Homo sapiens: one gene and its partner. The protein of the gene in region 1 purifies or fractionates together with the protein of each later gene. This does not show direct contact. Each region holds a gene or a part of one and is shown in the gene's direction. Other genes may lie near its edges.

Region 1 (7,099 bases):
GAAACCCCATCTCTACTAAAAACACAAAATTAGCCAGGCTTGGTGGTGCGCACCTGTAATCCCAGCTACTGGGGAGGCTGAGGCAAGAGAATCACTTGAACCTAGGAGGCAGAGGTTGCAGTGAGCCTAGATCGTGCCACTGCACTCCAGCCTGGGCTGGACAGAGCAAGACTCCATCTCTGAAAAATAAAATAAAATAAAATAAAACAAAAAAACAGAATAGAAGAAGATAGCTAAGAACCACAGTGGTCAAGCCAGCCTGGCTTCAACAGAGATGAATGGAGAGACCACGGTCAGCCCCATTAACAGAAGAACTGGGGCCAGGAACGGTGGCTCATGCCTATAATCCCAGCACTTTGGGAGGCCGAGGCAGGCAGATCATGAGGTCAGGAGTTCGAGACCAGCCTGACCAATATGGTGAAACCCCATCTCTACTAAACATACAAAAATTAGCCGGGTGTGGCAGCACATGCCTGTCATCCCAGCTACTCAGGAGGCTGAGGCAGGAGAAACGCTTGAACCCAGGAGGCAGAGGTAGCCATGAGCCGAGATCACGCCATTGCACTCCAGCCTGGCGACAGAGCGAGACTCCATCTCAAAAAAAAGAAGAACTGAGTTCAAAATCAGTTCGAAAGGTTCAATGTTGGGTCACAGGATCAGGCAAAAAGCAGAGGCAGAAAGGCCTTAGGAGTGTTCCAAGAACTAGCACTGGACCAGCTGAGAGTCAGAGAGAGTTCACCACGTGGGAACAATGCAGCCAGTCATGTGGGATAGTGGCACCATGACAGTATCTAGTCAGGACAATGACAGCCCCAGGGATAATGCTGATGAGTTCCTGCTTCAAAAAAGGTCATTGTCATTCCTTTAGTCCTGATACCTAGAACTATACGGGATTGTTCCCTGCCTCTCCCCAAGCCCCATAACTTGATCTTAAAGGCATTATTGTCAATTAAAGTAGTCCCAAGTTCCAGAAGCTATTTTTATTCAGCCTCGTCTAATAGGGCTTTCATTTTAAAATAGCTTTATTTTGAATCTATTTACTGTTCCCAGCCCCTATCACTTTGTTCTTATAAATATATTCATTCCACATGCATCACTGACAGGCACTGCTAGGAAAGGAAACTAACCCATCTTGACCACCTTTACACATCAGGTACTTATACTAAGGTGATTTCTATATATTACAGTATTGAATCACCACAACAATCCAGTGACGTAGGTATCATTACATATTATTATCCCCAATTAAGACATTAGGGAAATGAAACGTAAGAAGATTCAGAGAAAGCACAGGAAGGTGAATATGCCCAAGATTTCACATTAAGTAAATGGAATGCAGGATTCAAATTTACCCCTGTCTGAATCTAAATCTCATTCTCTTTCCATGGCATCATTCTCTCTCCTCTCTAGGCCTTTATAGAGGAAATATAGGCCCAAATAAAATATCAAAATCTCAGGATGGGATGACAGGCTTGATTAAGAAACCCAGTCACCAAGACCACGCAGCAAGAAATGAAAAAGAAAAAAAATAATAAAATGCTGAGAACCATAGTCTGCAAAGTGAAAGGAAGAATACCTGGGAGAGCTAGAGTGACCTCCACATGCAAATACACCCTGCAGACAGGAACAGGCTTGATGGGAAGAGCAAACTCCCTAAATGGTCGGTTGTAACTTTCCTACTAGTTGAAAAGTCAGGAAAAGCCTTGTGTGCTAACTCTCTGGACAAGCGCACAAGAATCCAGGGTTGTGACTTCAAAAAAAAATATGCTGACAAGTCAGAGCTGGCAGAACAAGAGGAGGTCGAGTTGATGAGAAGAGAGAGAGAGAGAGAGAGCACTGTAATCAAGGAGAACCAACTGAAGCTGGAGGGAAGCAGAAAGAATAGCCAGGCTGGTTCAGGAGGCAGTTCTGGTACCTCTGACCCCATTGCCCACCCCCAGTAGGCAGCATGAAATATGCCAGAGGTCAACAATTTTTTTTTTTGTATTTTTTAGACAGAGTCTCACTCTGTCACCCAGGCTGGAGTGCAGTGGTGCAATCTCAGCTCACTGCAGCCTCTGCCTCCTGGGTTCAAGCAATTCTCCTGCCTCAGCCTCCCAAGTAGCTGGGAATACAGGTGCCCACCACCAAGCCCAGCTAATTTTTGTATTTTCAGTAGAGAAGGGGTTTCGCCATGTTTGGCCAGGCTGGCCTCAAATTCCTGAACTCAGGTGATCCACCGGCCAAGGCCTCCCAATGTGCTGGGATTGCAGTTGTGAGCCACCGCACCCGACCCAGAGGTCAACAGCTTCTGCCCTAGATCAGAAGTTTACTCACTTTGCTCACTCGGTATAAATCAAGGACCCTCTCATACCTGGGAATGAGTTTTGTATTCCAGCCTAGAAGTAGAGCCAGTCCCAGTTTGAACTTTTTGCCTTTCTGTACTCCCAGTTCTTACCCTTTTGCTGAGCCTAGGACACATGCAAGGCCTGCCCTTCTTAATCCAGATTTTTGAGTCTTAATCCCAATTTTTCCTATAGTTTCCCATACACTCCATGGCAGCTTAGAGTAGGCTGAAAACTGCTGAACTGTTTAAGACTTAATCCTTCAGAGTAACATGGCAGAAGTAGCACACTTTTTTAACATAAAGCTGTTCAGGACTCTATTACAGAAGAGGCTATACTTCCTTAATTACATTCTATTCTACAGCCACCTCAAAATAACTAGTGAACACGTTCAACCAGGATCATTGGCAACAGCCAATGGGCACAGTGATCTAGAAATGGTCTAGCCAAGCTGTTTGGGCTGTAGACCATGGCATTCCTAAGAGCTAAATAGGCAAGGAGTCCATTAATATTTCACTTGACTTATGTCACCATGGAAACCCCTGGAGTAGTGAATGGCTTTGGGGAGTGGTCAGATTCAACCAAAAATAACAGAAATCTCTGTCCCCCAGGTAAAGGATTCCTACTTTGTGTGTGTCTGTGTGTGCACACAGGCACACTCGAGAGACTTTTGGCATTCTTTGAAGTCACTGGAGGGGCACAGAGATAAACCCACTCAGCCTTGGCCTCCAAGACTAACAGAACAAAACGTTTCCCTGAAAGAATAAAAAAAAAATACAGGCATAAGAAAACACACAAACATGGGCTTAGAGATTTAAATACACACACACACACACACACACACACACACACACACAGGCCCTAGAAGGAACATACACCCTGAGATACGCACTCATTCTAAAATAAACTCGGGAATACAGAAGGACACGGGCATGTCCTTTCAGAGAGGCACACTTCTAGGCCCTAAGTAGGAGAAGGAAGAGGGGAGAGGAAGAGGCAGGGAGAGGGACAGGGAGGGGGGAGGAGGGAGGGAGAGAGAGAGAGAAACGAAGAAGGGGGCGGAGGAGGAGATGGAGGAGACACTCTTTATTCTATAGGAGGAGACATCACGGAAGAGAAATCAACACTGAGGCCTTGGCCGGGCGCGGTGGCTCACGCCTGTAATCCCAGCACTTTGGGAGGCCGAGGCGGGTGCATCACCTGAGGTCAGGAGTTTCCAGACCAGCCTGGCCAACATGGCGAAACCCGGCCTCTACTAAAAAATACAAAAATTAGCCGGGCATGGTGGCGCGGACCTGTAATCCCAGCTACTCGGGAGGCTGAGGCAGGAGAATCTCTTGAACCCGGAGACGGAGGTTGCAGTGAGCCGAGATCGCGCCATTGCACTCCAGCCTGGGCAACAGGGCGAGACTCCGTCTCAGAAAAAACAACAACAACAACAACAACGAACAAACCAAAAACCAATGAGGCCTGAAGATAAAGACACATGTACAACCACGGATGTCAGACTTCCAGAGGCACGGCCAAGGCAAAAGACAAACACATACAGACTGCAGCAGGCAGACAGGCCGGTTCCAGAGTCAGGCTCCGGTGAAGCTCCGAAGAAACAAACACGCAGGGAGATTTCGGAGGCGTCCGAGGACACCGTGGGGCCCGGCTGGCTCCCTCTGTCTCTGTGCGCGCCCCTTCCCCGGGTCACCCCGCCTGCGCCCGACCTGCGCCCGCGCACCGCGCCCTCGGGGCTCCCTGGGACAGCCCGCGGCCTGGCCCGTGCGCCCGGGCTCCCCTCTCCGCCGGCCCGGCACTTCCCAGCTCTGACGCGGGAGCTTCTTTCACACCAATGGGGCTCGCGCGCGGAGGGGCCCTGCCCCTCCTCCGGGAAGGTGTGTCCCTGTTTCCTCACCTGAAACTTCCTAGGAGAACCCGATCCCTCCCTCCCGTCGGGCGGCCAGGGGCGGGCCGCGGGTGGGGCGGCCGGGCCTGCGCTGGGGACGGCTCTGGGGACTGCGGCCGGCGCCGGGACCTGGAGGGGACGCTGGGGCCGAAGCAGCATGTGACACCGACCAGGTGGGTGCCCTCCTCCCGTCTCGGCCCTGGGCTCCCGGCGGCTGTGGAGCCCGGCGGAGGTGGGGCAGGGACAGGAAGGAAGAGGAAGCCAGGCCTTTCCCAGGGATCAGCCCCCGCTGGGTCCGGGGCGCAGGCTCCGGAAATGGGGGGGCTGGGCCCGCAGGCAGGGCTCGGGGTGTGTGGCTGAGGACCCTGGTGGGGAAGAGGAGAGGAACTAGAGGAAATGTTGTTGCCTACAAGTTTGCTTCCGGTCGGGTCCCGCCTAGGAAATGGGCACCCTGCCCCCAGACGTTCCCCGGGCCAATAATCAGGGCTCTTTCTTCAAAGTAGGCGCCCTGGGGAAAGCTAAGCCATATCAGAAGGAATAACTGAGATTCCCTTTCTAGGCTGTTCCTTACCTGGAGAGGTTTTATCGGCTCCTTTTCCTTAACCAGGCCGGGGCCTTTCCTTATGTATCTCCATAGGTATTTGCATACTGTGTGAGTCTATGTGTAGCTTCTCTCCGTGTTAACCAAAGCTCCGTAACCTGGAACAGTGAATCCTGCCCTGCCCCTCACCCCAGTTCCCTACATATGGGGAGCCTCCTAAAGCTTGATGTGAATCACAACGTTGCATTCTTAGCAAGGTGGAAAGAAGTTATTTAGAGTTGGGGGCTGAGGTAGGCGTTGGGGTGCTAGAATGCGGACGCAGAGCTCTAGAACCCCTGAGCATCTTTTGCAGTTGCCTTCCGGCAAGACTACCGGAGGAGAGCCAGTTGTGATACTACGTCATTTCCAGATCTCAGTCCCTTTCTTCCCTTCCTGGATCTTGGGTTCCAAAGACAGATTTGCCCTCCTGTCTACCTAGAAGTGAACTCTGGCCAGGACTCTTGTCTGGTTGAGAGAGAAGGGTGTGTCAAACAGATGAGAGAGGGTGGTTTTCCTTTCGAGCTTCCTCCCTAGCTTGCTCCCCTACTGCACTCCACTGTCTGGCCTTGCATCTTGGGCCTAATCCAGAGGTCCCAGCTCCAGCTAAAAAGCTCTTGATGTGGCCTCTGTCTCAGACGTCTTGTTTTATCCACATTTGGAGCATGAAGAAGTTCCTGGCATAGGCCTTAGCAAAATGGGTGTCATTTGTTAACCAATCTGTGGGCCTAAAAGTGAAGCCATGGCTAGTGAAGGAGTCCTGGGGAGCTGGGAAGATGGGATGAGGGCGTGTCAGTTCTGGGTGAGACTGATATGCAGGAGGAATGTATGTCATGGTCCTAGTGGGGAGGAGAGAGAAATCAGGAGGAGTGCAAAGGAATCCCTCTCATCAACAGAATATAGTGATTCTCAATAGAGAGAAGAGTGTTCATATATTAGAGGTCCTGAGAGTGTATCAGTGCCCTTAACGCGGTCTGTCTGAGGTTCCGTGGCCACGTTACACGTGGTGTCTGTGGGATAGACAGGAATACGTCATTTGTGGTGTCTGGAGAGGTCAGTCGCTATGTGGTATGGACAGGAATGGAGTCACTCGTAGGGTCTTGGGTTCAACGGGAGCAGCATTACTCAAGTGTCAGTGGTGTAGACAAACAGGTGACCAACAGCTCTAGTGTAGACAGGGGCTGGGTCACTCACAGTGTCTGTGGAGTAAGCAGGAGCCGATCACTTATAGTGCCTGCAAGGTAGACTGGAACAAAGTCACCCTCAAGGTCTATGTTAATACACAAACACGTCACTCACACTAATGTTATCTGTGTGGATGCCACCAGGACCACAGATGAGATTGTAGAGTGTAAGTCAGCATTGACACTAATAATGTTCTTATATAAACTATCTGGTCTATAAGGCAGTTGGTGTGACATTTTCAGACATTAGAGAATAGATAAATGTGTATTACAGCTTTCACTGGCATGGTGGGACTTTCCTGCAATGGATAGAACACACATTGTAGTAGTCAGTGGTCCAGAAAGCTACCCCTGTTTTGATATCTTTGTAGTATTGAGGGCAGTGATGTCAAACAGTGAATAAAGTTATATATCTATGTGGTGATCTTATTTTAACCTCAATATTATTTTAGTGATTTGTAAGTCAGAATATTTGAAATCAACCTTGCTAGAAAATCCAGGAAGCATGGTCCTCAAAAATATATATATGGCACTGAGTCTCAGTTCAAAGATTTGGCAGTTTGATTGGGGAGGGGTTGTATCCTTGAAATACAGTGTTGTTTCTAGTGACTAGAAATAGACAAGAGCTAAGGTGTTGGTGGGGGGGCTCTAGGGAAGATAGTGAGCTCTGTCACACATTATGTTAAAGGGATGACTTGAAGCTTTGCCTCTCAAGAAGTCACACGTGGGTGAGGTTATGTGGATGCAGAATGTCTGTGGTCTGAAGCAAGGCCGTATCCCCATAATCCCATGCCCTGGCTTTGCCTGTACACAGATAAACAGTGATTATTCACCCTCAGTGGAGAAGGAGATGAGGATGTTTGCACTCTAACGTAATGAGCATTGCAAAAAACTCTCTCCTGATGCCTTTACGTGAGTAAGACCATGATTTACAGATTTCCTTTCACTTTGTCACATTTTAGCTTTGTCATGCCTGATTGCAACGGGATCACTGAGATAGGATCAAGTATAGGGAACGTGGGGTATGTTCTCCCTTTGCGGTAACTGGTGGCTGAGCAGGTGACCACTGATATTTCCAAATGAAAAAAGACAGTTAGAAACGGTGTCAATGGGCTTGCAG
Region 2 (7,027 bases), on another chromosome or scaffold:
GACTAGACTCTAGAATGGCATTAAGCAAGTCACTGAACCGCTCAGAGCCTCTGTTTCCTTATCACTAAAAGTTAGGACAATTCTTGCAATGAAATGAGATACTACTACCAAGTACTTCAGTGCTGTGCCCAGCACAGAACGAATACACTCAGTATGTTTTTCTTTTGTTTCTTCTGTCTCTCCAGCACCCAAAGCAGAAACAGTATGGGCAGAGAGACGCCTACTGAATCAGGTGTTTATCAGTATTATGAAATACAGTATATAAAACCCAGCATTTGGAGTCCAGAACAAATTCAAATTCTGGCTCAGTCACTAAGTAGCTATGTGGTCTTGGGCAACTGGCTTACATTTTGGTAATTCTCTCAATATGCAAAAATATTCTCTCGGCCAGGTGCGGTGGCTCACGCCTGTAATCCCAGCACTTTGGGAGGCAGAGGCGGGCGGATCACTTGAAGTCAGGAGTTTGAGACCAGCCTGGCCAACATGGCGAAACCCTGTCTCTACTAAAAATACAAAAATTAGCCAAGCATGGTCATGCATGCCTGTAGTCCCATCTATTTGGGAGGCTGAGGCAGGAGAATCACTTGAACCCAGGAGGTGGAGGTTGCAGTGAGCCGAGATCGAACCACTGCACTCCAGCTTGGGTGACAGAGCCAGACTCTGTCTCAAAAAAAAAAAAAAAAAAAAAAGAAAAGGAAAAAAAACTCCTGGCAGACATGAGAGCAAAATCGAGTACGAAATGGGCAGCTGGGACCTCATATCTACTGAATAATTGTCTGTTTGGAGGTTGAGACATGACTGGGGAGGCCTGGCCTGCCCCTGTGTTAGGTGATGGGGCTGGCCCACCCAGGGGTGTGGCAGCAGGGCTGGCCCCTGTGTGACTTGTGATAACCCCACCCTACCAAGGAGGAAGACTGGATAAAATGGGCCCCTGAGATGGCTGAAGGCAGCTAAAGGGGCCTAAGAGACTATGGGGAGAAGGGCAGCCAGTTCCTAGGCAGCCCTGCCCCACTGTTTCTGATAAGCAGGAGGCAGTTGTTCCCTCAGCCTCCTGAAAGCAATGAGGAGTTGAGGCCACGGGAATGCAGCTTTGGATTCCAGAAGCCAAGGACCTGTTACAAAGGTGGTTTTCTGGGAAGCAAATTAGAGGGATTAGACCTGGCTTCGACATCTGACTTGACTCCAACCTACCAAAGGATCTCCCAGTTCACCTGGGAGTTAACACACCAGGGTTCTAGTCCTTTTGCTCGCTGTGTGGCTTTGGGTAAGTCCTTGCCCCTCTCTGGACCTTGAGGTCCCATTCATACAAAAAGCAGTTGGACTCAGGCCTGCCAGCCCCCATTTTTGTGGCTCTTCCCCGCCCCTCCCCATCCTTTGGCTATGGGATAGTCTCCCAGGCACCTCCAAAAGGAAGTGTCTAAAACAGAGCTCTCCACCTCCTCTCCAAGCCCAGCTCCCCACTGCCCTCTTCCTGCCCTGTCCCTGTCTCCGCTGCCCTTTAGATCAGGCAGGCAGGCAGGCCTAGAGCATCCGCCCTGAGACACTGCCTGTTGGCTGCCTTAAGACGCCCCTTCCTTCTCTGCCCGCAGCCTCCCCAGCCTCTGCATTCCTCTGCTTCCTGTCTGCTCTGCTCAGCCTGCAGGATTGATCTTCCCAAAGCCAGGTGTCAACCAGGCCACTAACCCTACCCACTGCTCAGAAATCTTCCCACAGCCTCAGCCTGGCCCCCTCTTATCCATCCCCTCCATACACACTTGCCTCAGCTCCTCAAAACAGTCCACAGCCATCCTCCTTCCCCACCTTTGCCCCTTTCTTCCCTTCCTAAGGAAATATTGGCCCCCTTCTCTCCACCAGGCTGAACCCACTCATCCTGCAAAACCAAGTTCAACGCCCTGTCATTTTCTTTTTTTTTTTTTTTTTTGAGATGGAGTCTCACACTGTCGCCCAGGCTAGAGTGCAATGGGTGCACTCTCGGCTCACTGCAACCTCTGCCTCCTAGGTTCAATCGATTCTTCTGCCTCAGCCTCCAGAGGAACTCTGACTACAGGTGCACACCACCACACCCAGCTAATTTTTGTATTTTTATTTTTATTTCTATTTATTTATTTATTGTGAGATGGAGTTTCTCTCTTGTTGCCCATGCTGGAGTGCAATGGCACGATCTCGGCTCATTGCAACCTCCGCCTCCCAAGTTCAAAGGATTCTCCTATCTCAGCTTCTGAAGTAGCTGGGATTACAGGCATGTGCCACCACACCCGGCTAATTTTTTTTTATTTTTAGTAGAGATGGGGTTTCACCATGTTGGTCAGGCTGGTCTCAAACTCCTGACCTCAAGTGATCCACCCACCTCGGCCTCCCAAAGTGCTGGGATTACAGGCGTGAGCCACCGTGCCTGGCCTAATTTTTGTATTTTTAGTAGAGACGGAGTTTCACCACATTGGCCAGCCTGGTCTCAAACTCCAGACCTCAAGTGATCCACCCGCCTCAGCCTCCCAAAGTGCTGGGGTTACAGGTGTGAGCCACTACGCCTGGCGCCTGTCTTCTTCTAATATGCCTCTTCTGACCTCCTCACTCCCATTGGAGCCATGGCTCACTTCTGGTCAGGCTCCATGCACTCAATCAGCCCTGCCTGCCAGGACTGTAGTGCCCACTTGATGAGAAATCACCTGTGAAAATGCCAGGCATGGTCTGGCACACAGTAGGTGCTCAAGAAACAAATGTTAATGCCCCAGCTTCCTTCTGTCTTGTGTCCACTAATTTGGCATTTGGAGCATATTTTTGTACTTCACGTAATTAAATATTTACTGTGTGCCAAGGTCAGTGTGTGACAGAGCACTGTAGGGGAGGCAAAAATGAACCAACTCTGGACCTTGCCCTGCAGAAGCTCTGTCTACTGGCATGAGGTAAGACAGGTCCACAGATAACTTACATAAGAGAGACTGCAATCTGGACAAGACAGCCTCAGTGGGAGAGGGAAGGAGAACCCTGTAGATTTGGGTGCGGGGAGGCTGTGGGGAGAGCACAGCCTTTCAGGTAAAGGGACAAGGTTAGGAAAGCAAGAAGGTGTAGCTTGTGCTCGTGGAGCCCAGGAAACTCCTTGGGCTAGAAAAGATTTGGTGGCACTCTATACAGTGTATGTGTCTGTCTGTCTATCTAACATGAATGGTACTATTTTCTCCTATTGGTGTGCATTGTACCTAACAAAAAATCCATGTCCCAAGTACTTTTCTCTTTTCTTTCTTTCTTTTTTTTTTTGGAATGAAGTCTTGCTCTGTCGCCCAGGCTGGAGTGAAGTGGCGCTATCTCGGCTTACTGCAACCTCCTCCTCCTGGATTCAAGCAGTTCTCCTGCCTCAGCCTCCCCAGTAGCTGGGATTACAGGCACGCACCACCACGCCCAGCTAATTTTTTTTGTATTTTTAGTAGAGGTGGGGTTTAACTGTGTTGGCCAGGCTGGTCTCGAACTCCTGACCTCAAGTGATCTGCCCATCTCAGCCTCCCAAAGTGCTGAGATTATAGGTGTGAGCCGCCATGCCCGGCCAACAGTACTTTTCTCTAGAGGTAGAATTGCAGGGGATTTTTCTCTTTTTGCTTATCTGCACTTTTCTAAAAGTTCTGCCATGAACACGGGCATTTTTTGTGGAATAAACAAAGTTTAAATGTTGGCTAGATCAGTGCTTCTTTATGCATAAGGAAGGATTAGTTCTTTTTTTTCTATTTCCAATTTATTGATTCTTTGATAAAATGCAATGCAATAAAATTATTATTTTTTTTTAGAGACGTCTCCCTCTCTCACCCAGGCTGGAGTGCAGTGGTGCAATCATAGCTTACTGCAACCTTGAACTCCTGGGCTCAAGCGATCCTCTTGCTTTAGCCTCCTGAGTAGCTGGGACTACAGGTGTGGACCACCACACCTGGCTGATTTTTAAACTTTTTGTAGATACAGGGTCTCGCCATGTTGCCCAGGCTGGTCTCGAACTCTTGGGCTCAAGCCATCCTGCCACCTCAGCCTCCCAAAGTGCCGGGATTACAGGCGTGAGCCACCATGCCCAGCTAGAAAATTACTTTTTTGGCTAGGCACCGTGGCTCACGCCTGTAATCCCGGCACTTTGGGAGGCTGAGGCAGGCAGATTGCTTGAGCCCAGGAGTTCGAGACCATCCTGGGAAGCATGGCAAGACCTCCATCTCTACAAAAAATTCGAAAATTAGCTGGATGTTGTGGTGCACACCTGCAGTCCCAGCTACTTGGGAGGCTGAGTTGGGAGAAACAGTTGAGCCCGGGAGGTCAAGGCTGCAGTGAGTCGAGATTGCACCACTGCACTCCAGCCTGGGCGACAGAGACCCTGTGTGAAAAAAAAAAAAAGAAGAGAATTTTTTTTAAACAGTCATTGCTTGCTCAGATGTTTACTTTAAAAGATAATAATGAACAAGAAGCAGTCACATAAAATACAAGCCCAAATTTTATATCATTAGATTCTGATTGTCATGAAAGTTTCTAAAGACTTACTTTCATTTCTCAACTTACCTTGTTGACCAGCAGGGATTGGTGAACCATGCTGTGAGTAGCATTGGGCTAGAGAGAGGGGAGGCAGGAATCTAGAAGAGCTGTTTTCCAGATGTGACCATCTCCTGAGGACAGGGACCATGTCTCATGTGCCACCCATCACCCCCCACAGACAGAGCCTGCAGCCAATGCCCCAGGAGCCCTCGGTTCCAACCAACTGATGCCCCTGTGCCCACTGGCCCACGCCATGCAGCCCCAGTCCGTTCTGCACAGCGGCTACTTCCACCCACTACTTCGGGCCTGGCAGACAGCCACCACCACCCTCAATGCCTCCAACCTCATCTACCCCATCTTTGTCACGTGAGTCTCCAAGAATGGGCCAGGCCTCTGCTCTGCTGGTTGGGGTTGGGGTTGGGGAGGGAGTGTTGACTGGAGCGGGCATCAGTATGGCTGGGGGTGGCAAAGTGAGCTGTCAGCTTGAAATTCAAGGCACTGGAAGCAGGCTACTTGGATTAAGGACAGGAATCTTAGGAACAAAACAAACTTTGAAAGAACTCATTCATCCCATTTGGAAAATTAGAAGAATAACCCTTGCCTGCCATCCTGAGCTCTTGCAGTAAGACAGAAGCTGAGAAGGTGCTCTGTACATTGTAAAGTGCTATGTACCTGTAAGAGATGGCAGTCATTGAGGCTGGGCACGGTGGCTCACGCCTGTAATCCCAGCACTTTGGGAGGCTGAGGCAGGCGGATCACGAGGTCAGGAGATCGAGACCATCCTGGCTAATATGGTGAAACCCTGTCTCTACTAAAAACACAAAGAAATTAGCCAGGCGTGGTGGCGGGTGCCTGTAGTCCCAGCTACTTGGGAGGCTGAGGCAGGAGAATGGCGTGAACCCGGGAGGCGGAGCTTGCAGTGAGCCGAGATTGCACCACTTCACTCCAGCCTGGGCGACGGAGCCAGACTCCATCTCAAAAAAAAAAAAAAAAAAAAGAGATGGCAATCGTGATTGTTAATAATAATGCAGACATTTACTGAGTACTTACTATCTACCAGGTACTATGCTAAGCACCTACACACATTATCTCATTCAATTCTGAGAGCATTTGTATGAAGAAGGAGTAGCTATCCTCTAGAACATCAGCTCCATGAGGGCAGGGATGTTTGTCTATTTTGTTCACTGTTGTATCATCAGGGCCTAGAACAGTACTTGGCACATAATAAGTACTCAATAAATATTTGTTGAATGAATGAATTAACCACGCATGATATAGATGAAGGCCTAAGGCTCAAAGAGATGATAGAACTTGGCCACGGTCACCCAGGCAGTAAGTGGCTGGGATAGAAAGCAAGGACCTGCCAAATTCAGAGTCCAAGTTCTTAACCACTTAATTCCTTCCTGTAATTACCGTTCTTTTAGTACAGTTGCTAGTGTTGTCACTGTTATTCTTGTTGTTCCTATTATTATTTCAGGCCCTGGGCTTGGCCAGGCAGGGAAGCCAGACACTGGATCCCATCCTCCTCCCACCATCTCCACTTCCATATTTCTTTCCTGCTTCCCAACCATCCCTCTCAGTCGCCCCCGCACCACTGGCCCTTCCCACAGCTACCAATCCATATCCCACCCCCGCTCTTGCAGGGATGTTCCTGATGACATACAGCCTATCACCAGCCTCCCAGGAGTGGCCAGGTAGGAGACGTGGAGTTGGGGGGCCAGCGGGTGGTGGAGGGAGAGATTCCACAGGTGGAAGTGCTGGGAGGCAGAAGCAGACCTAGGAAGTAGAAGATGCGGACAGACAGACATTAGCTCAGTAGAGGAAAGGGTTTCCCCGGGGCCAGAGCTGTTCCACAGTGGAAGGGGCAGCCCCATAAAGTAAAGAGCTACCCATCACCCGAGACGTCGTGGCAGAGGCTGTTGCAGAAGGGAGCTGAACTGCAGATGGGAGTTCAAAAAGAGGGCCTCGAAGGAGCCTTCCACAGCCGAATTCCGGAGCTCTGCTACTCAGGGCCTCAGTCTTCCCTCCTATTTAGTGGATGCATCCCTGCCCCTTCTGTCCTGGGGGCTTGAGCCCTCCTGGTGCCATATGCAGCTTGGTTTCTAACAGAGGCACACAGTGTGGTGGGGTCCGGAGGACCGTTGCCTGGGACCTGCCTTCCTTCAACCCCTCTACCCACACCCACACAGGTATGGTGTGAAGCGGCTGGAAGAGATGCTGAGGCCCTTGGTGGAAGAGGGCCTACGCTGTGTCTTGATCTTTGGCGTCCCCAGCAGAGTTCCCAAGGTGAAGAATCAAAGGAAGGGCTAAGAAGGGAGGTTGCGCTCACGCCCGTAATCCCAGCACTTTGGGAGGCCAAAGTGGGTGGATCACTTGAGCCCAGGATTTTGAGACCAGCCTGGACAACATGGCAAAACCCATCTCTACAAAAAATACAAAAGTTAGCTGGGTGTGGGGGTATGTGCCTGTAGTCCCAGCTACTCGGGAGGTGGAGAGGTGGGAGGATTGCTTGAGCCCAGAAAGTCGAGGC

Evidence for each region. Proteins that work in one complex are often made in the same cells at the same time.
Region 2: the proteins of ARHGEF35 (region 1) and ALAD purify together in Homo sapiens (co-immunoprecipitation; 3 studies listed by BioGRID and IntAct, with this or other methods). This does not show direct contact.

What each region holds. Positions count from the first base shown.
Region 1 is NC_000007.14:144,192,830-144,199,928, reverse strand, and holds the start of ARHGEF35 (rho guanine nucleotide exchange factor 35), read left to right. Parts: upstream 1-4,095; 5' UTR 4,096-4,391; exon of another isoform or gene 4,392-4,608; intron 4,609-7,099.
Region 2 is NC_000009.12:113,391,283-113,398,309, reverse strand, and holds part of ALAD (delta-aminolevulinic acid dehydratase), read left to right. Parts: exon of another isoform or gene 1-232; intron 233-1,035; exon of another isoform or gene 1,036-1,264; intron 1,265-1,854; exon of another isoform or gene 1,855-2,852; coding exon of another isoform or gene 2,853-2,903; intron 2,904-4,672; exon of another isoform or gene 4,673-4,675; coding exon of another isoform or gene 4,676-4,750; coding exon 4,751-4,863; intron 4,864-5,974; coding exon of another isoform or gene 5,975-6,140; coding exon 6,141-6,191; intron 6,192-6,686; coding exon 6,687-6,783; intron 6,784-7,027.